Regions from separate parts of the Homo sapiens genome. Here region 1 is linked to region 2. Evidence: fine-mapped expression QTL. Tissue or cell type: left ventricle. Region 2 holds a variant in brackets; the other region holds the start of a gene. All regions are shown on one strand. Distances are from middle to middle.

The links. PIP is the estimated chance that this variant, and not a neighbour inherited with it, causes the effect. A credible set is the group of variants that fine-mapping cannot tell apart.
Region 1: it holds the start of GABRA4, and the variant in region 2 is the best candidate, but not a certain one, in a credible set for the expression of GABRA4 in left ventricle (GTEx, PIP 0.57).

What each region holds. Positions count from the first base shown.
Region 1 is chr4:46,990,787-46,995,996 of GRCh38, reverse strand. It overlaps GABRA4 (gamma-aminobutyric acid type A receptor subunit alpha4), which reads left to right and starts at 2,416. Exons shown (of 9, transcript NM_000809.4): 1 at 2,416-2,658; 2 at 3,051-3,169. The coding sequence starts at 2,573. It also overlaps a transcript of GABRB1 not described here. RefSeq lists an enhancer at 1,960-2,029 and a silencer at 2,191-2,485.
Region 2 is chr4:46,969,469-46,974,468 of GRCh38, reverse strand. GABRA4 (gamma-aminobutyric acid type A receptor subunit alpha4) reads left to right here. Exons shown (of 9, transcript NM_000809.4): 6 at 94-237; 7 at 3,234-3,386. Among named protein-coding and RNA genes, the nearest start is that of GABRA4, 22 kb to the left of the region's middle. The variant G/T (reference allele first, on the strand shown) is at 2,448.

The DNA.
Region 1 (5,210 bases), 21 kb before region 2:
CAAAAGTGGCATAAATAAAAGACTGTGAAATAAAATGAGAAGAGATATAAATGCCTTTAGTATTATCTTCAGCTGAACTTAAATACTATAACCCAATTAACAAAAATATAACTGGAAGTAGCTACTCTGAAAGAATGTTCTTTTAATTTGAATATAATAGTTTCACAGATTTTAAGTTTGAATTTTAAAGATACGATATGTAACTGTTTCCCCAAAGCCATTATTTTGGTTTCTTAATTTTTTGATATGTGTATTTTTAAAATGAAAATTGCAAGGGAAAGTGGTTTAGAAAATACAAATTTAGGTTTTAGAAAGTATAGGAAAAGGCTTACAAATGTAAGGCGGTGGCTTACATCTGTCATACCAGCACTTTGGGAGACAGAGGCAGGAGGATCACTTGAGACCAGGAGTTTGAGGGTAGCCTGGTGACATCGCAGAGCCCCCACATCTCTACAAAAATATAAAAATATATTAACAGAGCATGGTGACACATACCTGTACTTCCAACTACTTAGAAGGCTGAGGTAGAAGGATTGCTTGAGCCCAAAAGGTAGAGGCTGCAGTCACTATGATGGTACCACTGCTCTCCAGCCTGGGCAACAGAGCTAAATTCTCTTTTTAAAAAGGTAGGAAAGTATTAAGATTAGAGAAATAATATAATATGTGGAGAATCTGTGGTGACTAATGCTTTCATGGCATATTTGGAGGATACACTAGTTCTTCCGCTATTTTTCCCAAACGAGAGAGCTTGATAGTCATCCACATTTATAAGATGGATCTGAGAACAAGCAATTCATTGCTTTGTTTAATTGTTCATTCAATAAATATTTATTGACATTCTATGTGCCATGCACTGTAACAGCAGATAAAATAAACACAGATGAGCAAAAATTACCTAGCCCAGGCCCTCAGAGAGACCACAGTCTATGAGAAAAGAATGATAGAGATGGGATTAGGATGAAGTTAACAAATTCCATGAAGAAAGCAGTACAGAATACAGAGCACGGAGCTCTAGCTACTGCCCACGATGAGCACTTTGGGCTTTCCCTTAGAAAGAAAACTTGAATCCAGACGTTTAAAACACACAAAAAAACCAAAACCCCTGTCTAATACAATGCGTTCCCTCTTCATACCCGTCCACTAGTCATCTCAATTTGAACAAATCATCAGAGTTCCGACTAGAACCTAATTGGTGTTTGGTTCCAAGGTATGGGAATTACTTAGCTCATTGATCCATCATATGAAAATTTCCACATGCATCATTACTAATTTGAAAGACGCTTTTCCCCCTTGGAGCCAATAATTAATGTTTCCAAAGATCTATTGGGAATGCTTATCTTTGCTCAGTAAAACAGTAAAGATATGGAGCTTAGTGTTCCCTTTCATGTCACAAGGGAACTAATATTTGTCCCCCTCCATTTTAATTTATGTATCCTTTCTCTCCATACCCCACCTTCTGCCTCTCTCTCTCTCTCTCTCTCTGTCTCTCTCTGTCTCTCTCTCTCTCTCTCTCACACACACACACACACACACATTTTCTCTTTCCCCCCCCACTCTCTCTCCAGCCGTCCTTTCCCCCTACCTAAAGCAGTCAACCTCTGGAAGTAAGTCAACTCCATTCTGAAAAAGAAGAGTGTCGCAAGAAGTGAAAGTGATTTTGACCAGAGGTCGCTTGTCTCCACCTCTCCCCTCCTCTCCAGAAAAGGATGGAGCAGCAAAGCGGAGGGTGTGCGCGTGTCTGGTGGAGGCGGGTAAAGAAATGGGGTGTCTTTAAAGCAATAGCTTAGCAAATACTGGGACTAGAGTGCGGCTCGAGTCCACTTCCCAATAGTTTGGCGAGAGTCCGCCGGGTGAGCTGCAACCCCTGTTACCAGGAAGAATCTTTCTGCTTTCATTGCTCTCCCTACCGCCCCCCATAACACCTGAATGGGAGGGTCTCAAAGGTGGTTTGAGCCCGGACTTGATCCCCTCTCCTCACCACCGCTACCACCCGACGCCCAGCAGTCCCCGTCACCCGCCCTTTCTCCACCTCCAACCTTGACTCTGGGTACAAACAGGTCCTCGCACAACCTGATGACAGAGGAGCTTCATTGGTTAGATCCAAATCCCAGCGGAAGGGAGGGGGCCAGGAGGTAGGAGGACGAACACTGCTGTGGGCGGGGAGCCCACTTGGGGTCGGGGGCTGCGAAGCCGGAGGAGGGGCGAGAGACCCCGTTCCTCATCCCCGGAGTTACAGTCGGAACAAACTTGCCGAGTCTTGCAGCGCAAGCGCGCGGATACGAACCCCAGAACCTTCAGCGCGCGGGCACGAAAGGGTGTGGAGCGGTATACATAGCTCTACATACACATTGAGCGCTGAGCGAGAAAGGAGGGGGCGAGGAAGGCAGGTTCCGCCTCCCCTGGCCCCGTGCACACACACGCCCACCGCGGCTCGGGCTGGCTGAGCGCGGGCGAGTGTGAGCGCGAGTGTGCGCACGCCGCGGGAGCCTCTCTGCCCTCTCCTCGCACCCTGCTCAGGGCATCTGAAGAGCCTGGAAACGTGAACAGGCTTGAAGTATGGCATGTTGCAAAGATGGTTTCTGCCAAGAAGGTACCCGCGATCGCTCTGTCCGCCGGGGTCAGTTTCGCCCTCCTGCGCTTCCTGTGCCTGGCGGTTTGGTGAGTTCTCTGGGGTGCGAGGAGGTGGGCAACGGAAAGTGGAGAAATGGCTAGCTCCGGGACCCCTTTGGCCACTCGCTCCTCCCTGGGTGGACTAGGTCTTCTTATCTCAGCTGTAAGAGCAGGGGCCGAAGCCAGGCTTTTCTGTGACCGCATAGATGCGGAGAGCACCAAGGGCGCAGGATCCAAGAGGCGTGTGGGCACTGGGGGTCTTGCGGCGGGGCGCGCTTTTCCTGACCATTTCTGTCTTCTGCATCCCAACCCCCAACCTCCTCTCCTTTAGCTTGGGGCAAGCGACTCTTTCCCTAGAAAACAAACCTGTTTGCACCTGTTCTCTGATGGATTCTTAAAATAATCTCCTCCGCCCCCGGTTTTTTTTTTTTCGCTTGCAGTTTAAACGAATCCCCAGGACAGAACCAAAAGGAGGAGAAATTGTGCACAGAAAATTTCACCCGCATCCTGGACAGTTTGCTCGATGGTTATGACAACAGGCTGCGTCCTGGATTTGGGGGTATGAACGATTTCAAACGCGCAAGTGTGTCCTGTCTGTCCCTCTCTTGGTCTTCCTGTCTGTCTGTCTGTGGGAATATCATTAGGTATGCCTCACGTGCAAAAATAAATCTCTCTCTCTTTCTATCTCTCCTCTCTTGGTGAGACCTATGACAAGAAGACCGCCTCCACCCGTACTTTCCCATCTCCCTGCCCCCTCAGAAGCTTTGCCTCTCCCCCACACTAATTACCTCCCGGGACCTGACTGCTGGGTGGGGGAGGTTGGAGAGGAAGAGTCAAAAATGGGAACTCTGGGCTCAGCTGCCTGGACGCTCTTCGCTGAGAATAGTTTCCCTGAACCTGGCCACTTCGCTCAGAGCAGGTTGCATTGGAGGCAGCTGAACCGAAGTCCCTCATCCTCCCACGTGTCCATGCCTATGCCAAAACCTTGGCCAATGTTCTACCTGGGACATAAATCTGGGGCATGAAGCTGCCTGCTCTGCTAGAGAACCCAGTCCTTTCCTTTTCTCTTCTACAGCAGGATGCTTTTCTTTTTTCCCTTTCTTTTTTGGTGATGTGTCATTTGCTTTCCTCCTAAGACTTTAAAGTTAGAGATGTTCCAGCTTGCTTTCTTCAACAAAATAAGTATAAAGGACTTAATAGAGGTACATCCATTAACAGCACTGTTGCTGTTTTTCATATTCATATTTCCTTTGCATATATAATGGAAATCTATGTGGCAAGCTTTGCGCTAGGTACTAGGTCCACAGAAATATTAAGATACAATTCTTAACCTCAAACAGCTTCTCAGTCCAGTTCAACGAGGACAAATGACTTGCTAGGGTCCCATTCATAGGTTTGGCCCAGGTCCTTTGATCTCAAAGTCCCTGTTTTTTACAGTACACTGCACTAATTACCCTTCAGCAACTGAGTTGAACAGGATAGAGATTCTGCCTTAAAGGAGCTTACATTCAAGTGGTAACAATAATAACAGCCAGTAATATTGTATTTATTTAATTAAATGTTCACATATACCAGGCATTTTGTAGGCATCACCACTCTGTTTAACCCTCACAACAAAGCTTTGAAAGCCATTACCATCCCCACTTTACAGATAAGGAAATTGAGTCCAAGTTCCAAGTTAGTAAGTAGGAGGAGAAGGATGTAAACCCAGAGCAGGCTGTGTATTTAAAAGACAAAGCCGTGCAGATGGGGATGGTATCAGATGCTGTGTGATGAGTATCATCTAATATTAGAAGCATGGAGCAACTTTATACCTCCTATTGAGGGTGTGTAGGAGATGACATGTTGGGAGAATGGAGAAAGTAAGAATGGGGAGCAGGACTGCCTGTGATGTGAAGTAGGAGTATGGCCTGGGGCTAGAAACTCTTTCTAGCCTTCACTTGAAATGTCAAGTTTAAAACCTTTATGGGCAGATAAAGTAGAGTTGGGTGTTTCTTTGGCATCTGGTCTCATTTAACAGATGGGGACACTGAGGTTTAGAAAGGGAAAGTGATGTATATAAGGGCACATAGTACATCAATGATAGGATGAGATCAGGTCTTCTGAATTCCAAACCATTATTTTCTTGGATTTTATGAGAAGGTTATGGGAAGTCATTGAGGGTATTGATTCAGCATTTGTATATTTCTTTTTTTTTCTTTGAGATGGAGTCTCGCTCTGTCACTCAGGCTGGAGTGCAATGGCGTGATCTCGGCTCACTGCAACCCCTGGCTCCCAGGTTCAAGTGATTCTCCTGCCTCAGCCCCCAGAGTAGCTGGGATTACAGGTGCAAGCCACCACACCTGGCTAATTTTTTTAAATATATTTTTTGGTAGAGATGGGGTTTCACCATGTTGGCCAGGCTGGTCTCGAACTCCTGACCTCAAGTGATCCACCCTTCTTGGCCTCCCAAAGTGCTGGGATTATAGGCGTGAGCCGCGCCGGGCCAGCATTTGTATATTGACTGATAAGGATAGATGAGAAGGATGAAACTTTCTCCTGCTTCTTTTCATGTTGCCTCTCCAGGGATAGGTTGCCTACACTGCATTTGCCTTCATGCA
Region 2 (5,000 bases):
TCTTTCTTGAACAAGTACTGTTTTTAAGTGTTGACCACTGATGTGGATGAAAAAGGAGCATTGACTCTAACCACATTCTGTGCTCTCTTTTAGATGCCTATCCAAAGAGTGAGATGATCTATACCTGGACAAAAGGTCCTGAGAAATCAGTTGAAGTTCCGAAGGAGTCTTCCAGCTTAGTTCAATATGATTTGATTGGGCAAACCGTATCAAGTGAAACCATCAAATCAATTACGGGTGAGATGTGTAATGATTAAAGCCGACATGCTACTTGGTGTTAGCAATAAAGTTTTCTCCTGACTTTTTCATTGAAATAGTTAATTTTTTCAGGAGAACAACAAACATTTTCCAGAAATAGAGTTGATGCATGAGTTATAGCTCATAATTTCTTTATATTTATAATCTTACTTTAGTTTAAAATAAATTCTGATTTAGTAAGATGCTAAAAGTGAGTTGGTTTTCTTATTCAGAAATGAAAGCCAGTAATCAAATATGTTAAAATTATTTTCACAAAATTATGTGGTAGGAAGTCTGATCTTGTTTTTTGTCTTTGCTTTGTTTCTGCTTTCGGTTTTTGATGATTTTTGTGGGGCTTTCCAAAAATTTTCCTTTATCTTGCCCAATTTTGTGGTGCCACTTTCTCTCATTTTCTGAAAGTAAACAAAAATCTAAAACTTAATTACAAAGTATATTATGGGTATACATTAAGGTTATCACATGAGTAGGGGGGATGTTTATTATTTATGATTCTTGGTCTCTCTTTTCTTTTGGAATGTGAATAGGAAGAATTATAGAATTTAGTTTTTAATCATATTTAGTGGAAAAATTAGCTGATTATTGCTTGTTCTAAGACTGTTCCTTACATACACATATCACCAGAAAAAATATTTTTTATGATAGTTAACTTAGTTTGTTTGGGCCATTGTAACAAAACAACACAAATAGGGCGGCTCATAAACAACAGAAATTTACTTCTCACAGTTCAGGAGGCTGACAAGTCTAAGATGAGGTGCAGTCAGATTCAGTGTTCAATGAGGACCCATTTCTTCGTTCACAGAATAGTACCTTCTATGAATAAGTCCTCACATGGGGACCCCAAAGGTGTAGGGAGTGGGTGCTCACACTGGGGCCTCTTTTATAAAGGCACTAATTCTATTCATAAAGGCTCCACCATCATGGTTTAAACACCCCAAAGCCAACCTCCTATTATTACATTGGCTATTATGTTTCAACATCTGAACTTTGAGGACCACAAACATTTAGACCATAGCAATAGTTAAACTTTATTCAGCAATCACCATCTGATGGGCACCCTTCTAAATTATTTCCATGTATTTTTTTCTCATAACCATCCCATGAAGTGGATACTACTATAACATTTATTTTATACACGAGAAAGGTTTAAGTACAATGTATTTGCCTAAGTCATACAGCTAATAACTGGCAAAACCCAAATTCACATCTAAGTGTTATGACTTCTGAGTTTGTGTTCTTAAAAGGTGTTGACTGCGAGATAAAATGCTAAGACTGCATTAGTAGAAAATGAGTAGTTTTAAGATCTGGAGCAAAGATGTGAGGTAACAAAGTTTTTTTTTGTTTTTGTTTTAAGAAAAAATGGATAAAGCAGTGTTGTGAAGGGATGATGAATCTAAAATAGTCAAACTGAAAGGCAGTGAGAGGAATGGTGGTAGTCAGGGGCCTCCGGGAGGAGGAAACAGCGAGGTATTAGTCAAAGGGCATAGTATTTCTGTTCTGTAAGGTGAATAAATCCTAGATATCCACCGCATAGCAGAGTGCATATAGTGAACAGTACTGTATTGTCTACTTAAAAATTTGCTGAGAGAATAGGTCTCAAATGTTCTTATCACAGAAGATAATAAATAAGAAGGAGGGAACTTTTGGGGGTGATGTATATATTTGTGGCATAGATTGTGGTGATAGATTAATGAGTGTATACTTATCTCCAAACTCATCAAGCTGTATATATTAAATATGTACAGCTTTTTGTATGTCAATCATACCTCAAAAAATTGGTTAAAAATTAAACATAAATAAGATAAAATAGAAATTTATTATGGATAAATAAAATTAATACATAAGTCTTTGTTTTTAAAAAGGAATTTAGCCCACTGTCTCTTCTATTAAAACTGCTTTGTATAAGTCACACACTGTCTTTGTCATAAAATCAATGGCACTGCTCCTCTCTCCTAAATTTCCATTACTTTTATCTTTATGACACCTGTCATGACTATTATCATTTTGAGGAAACCTTCTTCACATCAATTATGAAACAATACAGTAGCTTTCTAAAGGGCACCTTGCCTCTCATCTGTCCAGGAAAATTTATTTTTGGAAGGGCATTTATTTTCCAGTCTGCAAATGGGATTTAGAACACATCTGGTAGGATGTGAGGTTTCTGAATGCTGGCCTCATGGTTTGTGAATAAG[G/T]CCACTGCTTCCTAGATAACTTTCTTCACATATTCTTTTCAGAGGTAACAGTAAAAACACTTATCAACAGCTACCAGAAATCTTATGGTTTATTGTACTTATTAGTTTTTCAGGTTTTTGTCTAAATGCCAGTAAAACATGCTTGAACTCAGGGGTGTTATATATGCCTGTATGTTATACACGTCTATATTTTTCTTCATATAAAGAACATTTAGAAATTCACCTCTTTCCTAAAACTATGGTAGCCTCTCTCTAAGCTTGTGACTGTGTATGAAATCTATATATGAATGAAATTTAAATATATTTATATATAAATATGTATATTTATTACTTTCTAAAATTAAACTTTATATTTTCATAAATGTGTGTGTATGTGTCAGTGTCTGTGTATGTGTAACTGTGTGCATTTCTATTTTTTTCTAGTGGTTTTTCATAGAAGATAGGTCTAAATGCTGTTTCTAAAAAACGCTGAAAATGAAAGCTAATTGCCTTAGCAATATTAGACCATCAAAATAGAAAGCACTACAGAACATTTTTAAAAGTTTTAGCCCAATTTGTTAAATTGCTTAATCATTACACGGAACAAAGAGTTTTTCTGTATAATAACGTTCAATATCATTTTCTCCCTCGTTAGGAAACTACATACTTATTGATGTTTGTGTAGCTATGCACAAAAGAGAATTTCTTTCCTTAGAATCCTGTTTGTTAGTCTGAAATATGTTTATGAAGCCATTGACTAATTGCCTGCAGAACCGATAACACATTTTCCTCCTGTTTTCTTGGCAGGTGAATATATTGTTATGACGGTTTACTTCCACCTCAGACGGAAGATGGGTTATTTTATGATTCAGACCTATATTCCGTGCATTATGACAGTGATTCTTTCTCAAGTTTCATTTTGGATAAATAAAGAATCAGTTCCCGCTAGGACTGTATTTGGTAATTGCAATTCATTTCTTGGGCGTTTTTGTTCACATTACATTTTATTCATGATTCATGGGATATTTCTAAGAAAATCTTAAACCCTAATACATCAGGCTATCCTGAATAAGGAATCACATGGCTTTCATTTTTATCTAGCCAGTACAAAGTAATAAAGCTTGGGGAGATTTGGGCATCCTTCCTTTCCTCTGGGGCCAGGCATCAGATTTCCCTTGTTGAGAACCAGACAGGCATAGACCAAATGTGAATCTGGACATAATCTCACTTTCAGTGATATTCTTGGGCTCCTAGTATAATGCTGTGTAATTGAATTAAAATTATATCTCCATGTTAAAAAGAAATGCACTGGCAGCTTAAAATAAAACAAATAAAAGTCATGGCTGAATGAATATGAAAGCCTTAGAATAATTTAGCTTTTAATGAAGAGGAACAAAATGCAAACGGTTTAAATGCATTGAATTGGAAGGTATTATATGCTTAGTTTATAAGCTCATATATTTACTTACTTCTTTTTTTTCTAAACATTGGTTTTTCTTTTTGTTTTTATAGTGGCTTCATATATACTGTATAGTATTCTGAACAATATAAAGTTCAGAGCATATGAGTTTACAATTTTTATAAGTTAATGTGTTCTACATGTCAGTCATGCTTTTAAATAGTATAATTTGTTATAATTATATTTATTTTAGTTAATGTCTTTCTCTATTCTTTTTCTGTTCATTGTGAGTAACAAAAGCATTCAGTAGTAGAATAAGAAGGAAAATGATCAGAATTGCTCTGGAATGGTGGTGTATTCCTCACAAGAGTGCCAATTCCTCTTTGATTTTCTACCTAGTAGGATCACAGCCATGGTATAATATCCTTTATCACACAATAGCTGAAGAGATGCTGGTGCGAAGGAACTAAATAGAACGGGAACTTTTCATCCTACCTCCCCATCCTTTTCAAGAACTATTGATTAGGGTGTCTTAGTGTCCTCAATGGATCTGAAATACTCTAAAGACAACTATCCTCCCTTTAATCTTAGGTTTCTCTAAGAAGGTGTTGGAGTATGAGGATGCATTAAAAAAATAGAAAGAAAAAGTACTGGAAGTATACTGGAGAAACTCATATGGGGGGGCAATGGTGGAGGGAGGGTGTGATCTTAGGAAAGCAGTGAGGAGGTATAATGGTACCTTAAAGAGTTATAAGGGTTCAATTAAAGAATAACTGCACAACTCAAAGTGTTGAATAAATTTTAGCTCTTAAATATAAGTTTGAAAGCAGAAGAGAGAAAAAAACAAATCTAAGCTGTAGGTGTCAGCAAGTCTAGGTTTAAACCCAAATCTGCCACTTATTTTCTCCATTCATAAAATTATGATAATACATCTCACCCTCATAGACTAGTGAGGATTTAAAAAGTTATGTATCGTTCTCAATATAGGGTATCTGGACCACTTAGTTCGTATTAATTACTTTCTCCAATACTTCTCTTATCTAAGGAAGATAGATTTTGTTCAGACTTAGTTTCCTTGACTTTTAAGTGTTTTAAAGAAAGCATAACTTTCTAGTGTTGTACTATTGGATGCTCTGCTAACTTCTTGATGTTCATTATCTCATTTAACACTCAAG